Linked DNA regions of Homo sapiens: region 1 is linked to region 2. Evidence: fine-mapped expression QTL. A gene starts in region 2. The other region holds a variant in brackets. All regions are shown on one strand. Distances are between the middles of the regions. Region 1 has its middle 6.6 kb from the start of KCP. Region 2 holds the start of SPMIP1 (sperm microtubule inner protein 1).

What was found. PIP is the estimated chance that this variant, and not a neighbour inherited with it, causes the effect.
Region 1: its variant is the best candidate, but not a certain one, in a credible set for the expression of SPMIP1 in visceral fat (GTEx, PIP 0.85).

Annotation. Positions count from the first base shown.
Region 1 is chr7:128,914,651-128,920,017 of GRCh38, reverse strand. No RefSeq gene overlaps it. Among named protein-coding and RNA genes, the nearest start is that of KCP, 6.6 kb to the right of the region's middle. The variant A/G (reference allele first, on the strand shown) is at 2,702.
Region 2 is chr7:128,863,557-128,868,923 of GRCh38, reverse strand. SPMIP1 (sperm microtubule inner protein 1) reads right to left here and starts at 2,594. Exons shown (of 2, transcript NM_001195150.3): 1 at 2,094-2,594; 2 at 1-258. The coding sequence starts at 2,514. The coding sequence ends at 149. It overlaps ATP6V1F (ATPase H+ transporting V1 subunit F), which reads right to left. Exons shown (of 2, transcript NM_004231.4): 2 at 3,077-3,547. The coding sequence ends at 3,346.

The sequences.
Region 1 (5,367 bases), 51 kb before region 2:
CCCAGAAGGTTCTGGGCAGGACCCTGTCTCATTCACCACTGTACCCCTGCATCGAGCACAGTGCCTGGCACCCAAAAAAGAGGCACACAGTGATCATACTCAACTGTGGAACTCAAGTGCCTTGCAAATAACACCCTTTCCTCAGGGCCCTGGGCTTTCACTTTATAGGGTGAGTTTTCCAGAAGCTTCTTTACCTTCTGTTGCAGATTTTTAAAAAATGTTAACATTGACTTTTCGGTTTGGACCTCAGAGGGAGATGATGATTATGACAATGAAAATAATAACAGATTGTGGTGCTTAAAATGTGCTGGGCACTGTAAAAAGTTTTCTGTGTGTATTATCCTACTTAACACCTGTGCTGGCCATCTCTTATGCAAATCCTCTCAGCTGTACCTCATTCCAGTTGTACACAGTTTGCAAGCAGCTCCACACAGTGCACCCTGACAGCGTCTCTCCTGAGGTCCTGGCTGCAAATCTACCTCTCTCATTTTGGAATTTCTCTGATGCACAGCATTGGATACCCTCGGGAACCCATGTGGGCACTGGCTCATGCATAACTGGGAGCAAGCTAATGCCCTGGGGGCCTCCCAGTGCCGATGGCTTCTACTGCCTGCCTGCCTTTCACATGGCTCCCCAGGTCCTGCAGGACCGGATGCTGATGCCCACCGCAGTGGTCGGCTCCATTGCATAATGCACCCTTGTATTGGCTCTCCATCCTTCCCAGTTTCACACTTCCAATCCTCCCTCCTGCTCCTGGGGATCATATTCCAAAATCAGCCTGCATGCAAGCCTTTGTCTCAGGCTCTGATTTCCAGGAACCCAGGCTAAGACAATCGTTTTTTATTTGTTTGTTTGTTGTTGTTTTTGTTTTGTTTTGTTTTTGAGACAGTCTCACTCTGTCACCCAGGCTGGAGTGTAGTGGCACTAATCTCGGCTCACTGCAACCTCCATCTTCTGGGTTCAAGTGATTCTCCTGCCTCAGCCTCCCAAGTAGCTGGGATTACAGGTGCCCGCCACCACACCCGGCTACTTTTTGTATTTTTAATAGAGACAGAGTTTCGCCATGTTGGCCAGGTTGGTCTCGAACTCCTGACTTCAGGTGATCCACCCACCACAGCTTCCCAAAGTGCTGGGATTACAGGCATGAGCCATCACACCCAGTCTGACAATCCTTAACGAGAGCAAAGACAGAAGTGCTCTTATTACCCCTGTTTCGTAGGGGAGGACCTGAGACTTAGGTTCAATAACTTGCCAAGATCATATGGCAAGTAAGGGGCAGAACCATTGGAAGGTTAAAAAAAAAATGCTCCTCTCAGGGAGGGGGAGAACGATTTGCCAAGAGATTGTAGGAGGATTTCTGGCAATGTCCAGTGCTCATTGATATTTGTGGCCACGAGTCTGCCATGGAAGCAATGGAGTGGTGAGATGCTGTCCAGCAATATTCAGGGGCTCTGACAGAGGCATGAAGAGGGCAGGTGGGGGTGCTGGGGTGTGGGACTGGGCAGAGCAGGGGGTGAGCTGGGCAAGAAGCAGCTGAGAGTCACAGTGACCAGGGATGGCGAGGAGGCTAGGACTTCTCATGACGATAACATTTCTAGGGAGAACACCTAGTAGGTCGTGCCAAGGATAGGGCCAGGCTACTTGGCTGGAGGTCAGTGTGGACAGGCCTGGCCAGGCCCCAGGATCCTAAGGACCTCAAATTGATTCCATTCTCTACAGCTTATTCCCACTGTGACTCTGAGCTTATGCTAAAAAATTGTGCTGTTTATTTGAAATTCAAATTTAACAGGACATTCTGCATTTTTATTTGCTAAATCTGGCAACCCTATCCCGCCATGAGCCAGTAACACCTCCCTGCATAGCCATGACCTCCTCTTCCTCCCAGCTCTCTTCATGTCCCTGGCACCACTGCTATCCTAGTGTCCCAAGCTCGGCCTCCACTATTCCAGGGGATCCAGCCAGTCACCGGCTCCTGCCCGTCCTTTAGAAACATCCCCCTTTCTCCAGCCCACTGCCATCCCTGGCTCCATGCCTAGACAACTGCTGTCACAGCCCCGACGCCTCTGTCTGCATCTAGCCCCCACCAGGTGAATATTCCTCAAGCGCCCCCTTGACCATGCCACAGGCTGCTTCAGCCTTCAATACCCCCCACTGCCCATAGAAAAAAGTCCTAATTGCAAGGCTTACAGCAGCCTGTTCCCACTGGCCTTCCCACATGGACTTCCTGCAACCCACCTCTCTCCACCCTGTCCTTGTGCCCAGAGGACCCTCACGTACTCCTTCTCCTTCAGGTGGAACCCCACTTTCCCATGAAGACCCAGCTCAAAGGACCCATTGTCTGTAAAGGCCCCCTGACTGCCCAGCCTCGACGGGCTTCCCCTGCCTCCTGTGCCCTCCTCTGGCAAAATACACACTGCACTGCCTTCTACACCTCCTCTTAATCTGCTCATTGGGTCTTCAATCTTGTGGTAGCTTGGCTATGAGCTTATCTTCTCAACTAGATTGGAGGCTCCCTGAGGGCAGGAAAAAGATTTTGTGCCTGTTTCCCCATGGTCTCTGGCTCAGTCCCAGGCCAGAGCCAGTATCTGCTGACTTGTGTATGGGTTCTGCACTCCCCTGGCCACTGTCAGGAGTGAGTGGGTAGGCACCCCTGGGCATGTCCCAGGCTCGCTGACTCTCAGGTGGCAGGCCGTGGCTGTGG[A/G]CATGCAGGAGATGGGGCTGAGGCTGGCAGGAGGCTGACCTGGCTCACAGTGCAGGCAGCATGCTCCTGGCTCAGGGCAGGGTCCTCTTGGGCATGGCTTCTGGTTGCAAGTGATGGTCCCTTCCTGTGGGAGCAGACTGAGGTGGCTGCACAGGCATCAGAGCCCTGGAGGGCAGGGCCTCTGGAAGCAAAACCTCAGCCCAGGCGGGGACATGTCATAGGGGCAAGAGGATGAGTTGGCTCTGTGGATGTGGGCTACCCTCTGTGTAAAGGCAGAAAAGAGACATCCTGCCCCAACCCGAGTCGTCTCTTGATGTTTTTTGTTTTGTTTTGTTTGAGACAGGTTCTCAATGTATTGCCCAGGCTAGAATACAGTGGCTCCATCATGGCTCACTGCAGTCTCGACCTCCCCATCTCAAGTGATCCTCCCGCCTCAGCCTCCAGAGTAGCTTGGGACTGCAGGCGCTCACCATGACGCCTGGCTAATTTCTTTTTATTATTTTTGTAGGGACTGGGTCTCCTTATGTTGCCCATGCTGGTCAGCTTCTGGACTCAAGCAATCCTCCTGCCTGGCCTTCCCAAAGTGCTGAGATTACAGGCGCAAGCCACCACCTGGCATCCTAATGCTCTTGACCCGGGAAACCATCTCTTTCAGGTGCCAGAGCTCAACGATAGCATGGACTGGGGAAGACCTGCGGACCCTTCAGAGCTGGGGGGAGTCGGGGGGCGGGGCGCGGAGCGGAATTTGAGGTTATGGAATTACTATTTCCCTGTTCCAGACTGCCGAAGAAGCCCAGTGGTCGTCTAGGCCACCGCGCTATCTGTCTGGCGTCTCCTTACAGGCCCTGGGCCTGGCCCAATGCTCCCTCCAGGTCAGTAGTCACCGGTAAGTGCCAGCCTCCTCGAGTGGTCCCTCCGGTCGGGGCCGGCGCGGTGCAGAAGAACCCAGCGCAGCCCGGGCAGAGTCAGCTCGGCCCCGCCGCCCCACCAGTGCTCAAGGGCGCAGCCACGCAGGAGCATCGCAGACAGGTGGGTCCCGGCCGCCGCTCTCTCCTCTCCGCGTCCCCGCGTCCCCGCGTCCCCGCGTCCGGAAGGTGGTGGGAGCGGTACCGGCTGTTGCCCACCCACAAGTCTAGGCCTCAACCAGGGCCCGCGCCCCTCAGGCACCTGCGGGCGACCGGATGAAGACTGGAGTAGGGCGGGGTCCGCGTCCAGCTGCGCCTGGAGACCGAGCTTCGGTGGGTGCCTACAGCAGGGCGCGCCCCGCCGGCCTGGGACCTCCCAGGCGCCCCTCACGCCCCGATCCGTTTGAGGTGCTGGCGCCCAGGGAACCCCAAGGCCCAGGCGGCGAGGTCGGCACCGCAGCTGGGGGCGCAGGCTCTGCTGCTCCCACCCCCCCACCCCCACCCCGCCATCGCCCAGAATGGGGGCTCCCAGGCGCCCTGCTGGAGGCTGGCTTGGTCCACAGAGGAGCGAGGCCCGATCCTTACTTTCGATGCACTCGCCCTCGCTCTTCCCGGGTCACCCTAACCCTTTCGGAAAAAAAGGTGGAGGTTTAAAGCGTTCATCCCCCGGGATCTTCAGGCCAATGGCAGGAATTGTGCAAGAGTTTGGGGGAAGATAGTGTCAGGTAGAGGCTCCGTCCGTCCCTGGGCTCGCGGCCGGGAATGGTAGACGCCGGCCCCCAGAGCAGCGGAGAAGGATGGGGCGCAATAGTTCCTGGGCTGGTTTCTGTAGGTCTTGTCCCAGAACTTAAGAAGGCAACAATGAAGAGGCTGAACGTGGAGGAAAAGTGAGACTAGCATGGCTGGGATTTGGAGGAAGATGGCGAGGACCAGCGCTGGCCTTGAGCGGTTGTCTCCGGACCCGGGAGGGCGGGAGCAGGTGCCCGGGAGCAGAGGCGGGAGTGGGGGACTTTCCCCAGCCTCGCGGCCCCGCTGGACACAGCAGGGCGAGGACCGGGGTGCTGCTCTAGCAGCCGAGGAGCGTCCCTGGGGGTGAGGGTGGCTCCACGGGCTGGCCCAGGGGGTGTGCCCCCGCGGAGCCAGCGGGAGGGGTGGGGGCGGAGGGGAGGGGGGAGGGGGGCGGAGGGGAAGCGGGGAGCGGGGGCAGAGGACTGGAGTGGGCCTGGGCCCCCGTGGACCCAGTCCCCAGGGCCTGAAAGTGCACCGGCTGTGTCCACAGAGAAAACTGTCAAGACCTCCCCTCCCCCTACCTCCATCCTCCCCCTACCCCGTAGCTGTCGGGCCTGGGGCTGGGGCTGAGGGGATCCAAGAGTCTAGGGAGTCACTGGGAAATCACCCCCTTTCATCTGAAGGCCCTACTTGGGGGTTTTCCCCCTGTACCCTGGTCTTCCCCCACCTTGCCTCTCGGAGGAAGCCGAAAGAAGCTTCTTTCTGGGCACCTGCTGCCCCAGAGCCTCAGCCTGTTTGGACCAGGCAAGCAGCAGGGCCTGGGGTGTGGACAGCTCACCTGGAGGGGTGGGATTTAGGATCAGGCCCAATGCAGCAAAACCTTTGTCCTCTCCCTGAGCTGGGTGTGGGTTTGCAAGGAGACATGCGACCCAGAACAACCCTGGAGGCAGCAGGGCGCCTGCCGTCTGGCCACTCTTACTAGGACTGCTGTGGCACTTCCTCCCCTAGCAGCCCCCTGGTACCAAAGCCTTG
Region 2 (5,367 bases):
AACTTGCAGGTCTGATAGTTTCAGAAAGGCCTGAATGCAACCTCAGGGACAGGGAGAGCAGAGGGGCACAGACACACACAGCAGCTTTGCCCCACCAGGAGGCCTGTTATTTCTTCTTCCCTCCCCTAAGCCCACACCTGGCCCACGGTCAGAGGGCCAGGTCTCGGGGATCAAGCAGTGCGAAGGCCCCGTTCTTGCGGAAGAATGACTCAATGCGGCACATCTTGCAGGAGACCAGTTCTTGCTTCACTGGGGGGCCTGGGAAAAGATGTCAGAGGCCAAGCATGGGTTCCTGAGGGAGGGACACGCAGAGCATGGGAGCCCTGTCTGTCTGCACAGCCCTAGGAATCCGTCAGTGGAGTAGCCACTTTGTGGGAAGAAATAGAAAGTGCTTTGGAGGAATGGGAGCTATGGGCAAATACTGGGAGCTGGCTGGATGCCAGGATACAGCAGCCATCTGCCATCATTACCCTAGCTTCAGGATCCTCTACCTGCAGGGAGGGGGGCCACCCTAGCCTGCTTGTCACAGGGACAGACTGTGGAGAGATGAGATTTCCTTCGGCCTCCTGCTCCCCGCTTCTAGGGCTCGCCTCCTGCTTTTGTTAGAAAGTTATTTCCCTGACTTCCCCTTTAGGGGCCTGGGGGAAAGGGATGTTTGGGGGCAAAATCTCAACTGAGTCAATCCCCAACCATCCACCTTTTCTGCAAGACACTCAAGCAGCTGGAGAAGGGTACAGGGCTGAGGAGTCTCACTTGACATTCATGAGCACAGACAGCAATGGGACGTGCAGCAACATCGCCCAGCAGCCCTGCCTGGCACATGCCTGTTCCACACCTTTCCTCTTCATCTCTAGTTACTCCACTGCCTCAGCTCAGCTCCCTCCCCGCTGATGGCCTTGACTCAACCTCACAGAAAAAAGACTCAGCCGAGATGGACAGGCTTCCTGCCAATGACATCCCCTACCCGCTCTGGCTCAGCCCTCCTGCCCCCACTCCCATCAGATTCCAGCAACTTGAGCTCCCTAGGAGATCTCATGGATTTAAATAGCACCTATAGGCCAGCCGGTGGCTCATGCCTGTAATCCCAGAACTTTGGGAGGCCGAGACAGGCAGATTACGAGGTCAGCAGTTCGAGACCAGCCTGGCCAATATGGTGAAACCCTGTCTCTACTAAAAAAACAAAAATTAGCTGGGCGTGGTGACACACGCCTGCAGTCCCAGCTACTCGGGAGGCTGAGGCAGAAGAATCTCTTGAACCTGGGAGGCAGAGGTTGCAGTGAGCCAAGATCGTGCCACTGCATTCCAGCCTGGGTGACAGAGTCAGACTGTTTCAAAAAGAAAAAGAAAAAAAAAAAGCACCTATATTCCAATGACCTCCGAATTTGCATCTTCAGCTCTGACTTCAATCCAGACTTATAGACACAGCCACCCTACAGACACTTCAAGCATAACATAGCCAAACACACATGGCTAAATAGGACCTGTTCATGCACGCTCCAGCCCTGACCTCTCCCAGTCTTCCCTGTCACTGCAGCTTTAGCTAAACAAACACCTGGGTGATTGATCTCTCTTCCCCTTATTCTCACATTCTATCCATGGGTGAGTTCCACCGAGTCTTCCCCCAAAACATCCTGAATTGATTTCAGCTCTATTGCTGATCCCTCAGGCCACTACCACAGGATAACCAAACAGATGCCCAACTCATGTGCCAGATTCTACCATTTCCCCTGAAAAAGCCACTGCCTACATACAGGTCAGGGTGACTTTTTAAAAGGTTCACCAGTGTCACTCTTGAAATCTGCTTAGAACCCTCCATCAGCTTCCCTGCACAACAAATAAAATCCAAACCCATCCTTATCATCTGGCTCTCAGCCTCGGGTCCTCAGAAAGGCCTTTCCTGACAATCCAATAAATAGCAGCACGTGGCCGCTGCCTCCCTGCCCACCGCCACTCCCTAGTTCTGTGGAACGTGTCGACACTTCTTGGCCATCTCCTTGCTCTGTTTATAGTCTGGACCCTTCACCAGGATGCCCACTCCCTAGCACATGGCTAGTGCTCTGTTTTTGAGGTGATTTCCAAGAGGTTGGGCTCACCCAGCTGCCAGCCATACGTGAAGCTGGTGGTGATGGGGAAGAGGTATCGCGTCTCTGGCATGTCCAGTTTTCGAGTGTTGAGGTAGCGGTACCGCCCCTGGAAGTCGTGGGAGATGCCTTCATACAGCAGGGCTCGGGTGATAGGTGGTACCGGGTACATTTCCGACTGAAAAGGCGCCTCTGGGACAGGGCTGGGCACCTTGGAAGGGGCTGACTTGGGGGCGGGTGGGGGTGAGAGTGGGGCTTTGGGGTGCAGGGTGGGCAGTTTGAGGGGCAGGCGGGCTGCAGCCTTAGCCTTCTGCTTGGCCTTCACCATCGACCCATACTTGCGGTACCATTCACAGCGCAACATCTTTTCCCTCAGATATTCCTCCTTCCAGAAGTTCTGCCGTAACGCGTCTATGTTGAGCTGCCGTGACATGGTGGCCAGGGAAGGAGTGGCACCAGGGTGGCCACAGCTGAGGGGTGAGCACAGCAAGCAGAGTGCTTCTGACGGCGAGTGGCTGCCCAGGCACAGTCACCTGGCAACCATGCCTCACCTCACACAGGGCCAGGGTTCTACTTGCCATGCCCCCAGCAGACCCCATGAGCCTGGCTTCCTGAGGCAGCCTGAGGCCAGGGCCCACTGGTTAAGAGCCCTGCTCCCCCCAAAACTCCCGCAGGGCCCTCGCGGGATCTGGCATCACAGACTCCCAGGTTTCGTGTGCTTTCTGCTTCTGTCCTTTGGATCTGGCCCCCTTCCCAGCCCAATGCCGAGCAAGGTGGGGGAAGCAGGAGCTGGGCTCAAGCCTCCTCCCATTCCTCCCCAGACCAGAGCTGGTCTTCTCTGATCCAAGGACCAGTCCTTGAGTTCTGCCTCCCGGCACAATCCTCCTGGGCCACCTCTTCTATGCCTGTCTTTGGCAGCACCTTTTCCATCCTTGCCAACCGAATCTGCCCCATGGCCTCACCCCACACATGTCCTTTCCAGCACCCAACCCATCTGGAGAGAAGCAAGAATATGACTTTAATTTAACATCAACAATGACACTGTGTAACAGCACAGGGAAGAGGTAGTGGAGGGAGATGGTCAGGCTTCCTGTTCCTTAACCAGCAGAGCCCCAGCAACCTAGAAGCGCCTCACCTAGCCTCTTAATGGAGTGGGAAGGAGCAGGGAATTGGAAATCAGAGGCTCAAAAAGTAAAGAAGGCTGATGGCAAGCCTGGGGAGAGGCCTGGAAACGAGGGAAGGGCTGAGGGCTATGAGGAGTCCCCTAGCGCAGGTCTTCGGCAGTGAACATGCCCCTGGCCCTGCGCAGGATGGAGTCCTTGGCGGCGTCATATGGGTGCTCCTTGGAGGGGATCTCCAGGACAGCGGGGATGGACTGCTGGTGGGCGTCCAGGGCATGCCGCACCATCTCTGCGATGTACTGGTTGATGAGGATGATGCCAATGTCATCCCGGTTTAGAAATTGCCTGTGGGGAGAGATGAGAAGGGAGTCCAGGACAGCTCTGGGGGCTGCCGTCTCTCCTACCCAGGCAGCCCTCTCCGAGTTGTTGGGCTGGGCTGTGGAGGGGAATGAGCATGACCCAGAGGGCACAGAGGACAAGGGGAAAGGCTGCCACGCTCAACCCTCTGTCAACCCTACCTAGAATCAATTTCATCCCAAAGCGGAGGGTCACGCTGATTAGGGTTGGCTTCTACAACACTGCCCGGAAGGCTTCCAAGTGAACTGGTAATGAAGATTGATTAGGGTGCACACTGGTGTATTCAATATGCAGTGATGTGTCAGAAAGGGGAAGGATAAGATTATATGTATGCAGATCCCTTTTTATGTGCAGATACTGAAGGCCAGCTGTGATGGCTCACGCCTGTAATCCCAGCACTTTGGGAGGCCGAGGCAGGTGGATTGCTTGAACCCAGGAGTTTGAGACCAGAATGGGCCACATAGTGAGACCCCCATCTCCCTCTCTCTCTCTCTCTCTCTCTATCTATATATACACACACAAAAAAATGGCTGGATGTGGCGGATCTATCTATCTATCTATATATATACACACAAAAAAAAAATGGCTGGATGTGGCGGCATGTGCCAGCTACTTGGGAAGCTGTAGTCCTAGCTATTTAGGAAGCTGAGGTGGGAGAATCACTTGAGCCTGGGAAGTCGAGGCCGCAGTGAGCTGCGATCACGCCACTGCAATCCAGCCTGGGTGACAGGAGTGAGACCCTGTCTCAGAAAAAAAAAAAAAAAAAGACACATTAACTTTTAAAAAGAAAACAAATTATTTAAAAATAGGGCTGATGAGACCACTGAAGGCCTCAAGGTCTATCCTGATGAGGGTGGTGGAGGGGTCAGAGGGAAAGTTTGGCATGAACTAAGATCACAAGCTAGGAAGAGGACACCTTGATGAAGGAATCACACTTTCTGCACAAAAAGAACCTGGCCTTGTGCTCCTTCTCTCCTGTGGTCACCCACCCATTCATTTGTTTATTTTATTTTTATTTTTTTGAGACAGGGTCTCCCTCTGTCACCCAGGCTGGAGTGCAGTGGTGGATCTCGGCTCACTGCAGTCTCCACCTCCCAGGTTCAAACAATTCTCCTTCCTCAGCCTCCTGATTTCTTGGGATTACAGGCACCCGCCACCACGCCTGGCTAATTTTTGTATTTTTAGTAGAAATGGGGTTTCACCATATTGGTCAGGCTAGTCTCAAACTCCCGAGCTCAGGTGATCCACCCGCCTCGGCCTCCAAAACTGTTGGGATTACAGGCGTGAGCCACTGCACCCAGACTCATTCGTTTATTTACTGATTAAAAATTACTTACTGAGCACCCACCCCCTGCCAGTCACTGGGTTAGATTTGATCTCTGAGGTCCCTTTTGGTTGGAAACATAAAAAATTCTTGAAGTAAAATTTGTCCTTCTCCCATGATAACTTGGGTCACTTTACCAGACAGCTTAGAGAATGGCAGATAACAGCCTCCCAGGTCAGGGACTACCTAATACACCAGGCAGCAGGAACCAGTCTCAGCCAGCAGCCCTGGGCTGGACTGTTTGGGGGAAACAGGTGAGTGGTTTATTCCTGAGACTTGGTACAGGGGCCCTGGAGAAGGGGTGAGGAATAAAATAGGAGGCTGGTATCCTTAATTCCAGTCACCAGGACCCCTGGTGGATTAAAAGCATGCCTGCACCCACACTCTGACCTAAGGCAGGCAGTGAGGGCTTGAGTGCAAGGTCTTAGCAGAAGGCTCTCACAGTCCCGACATTTCTGCCTACTGTGCTCAAGACTACAAGGAA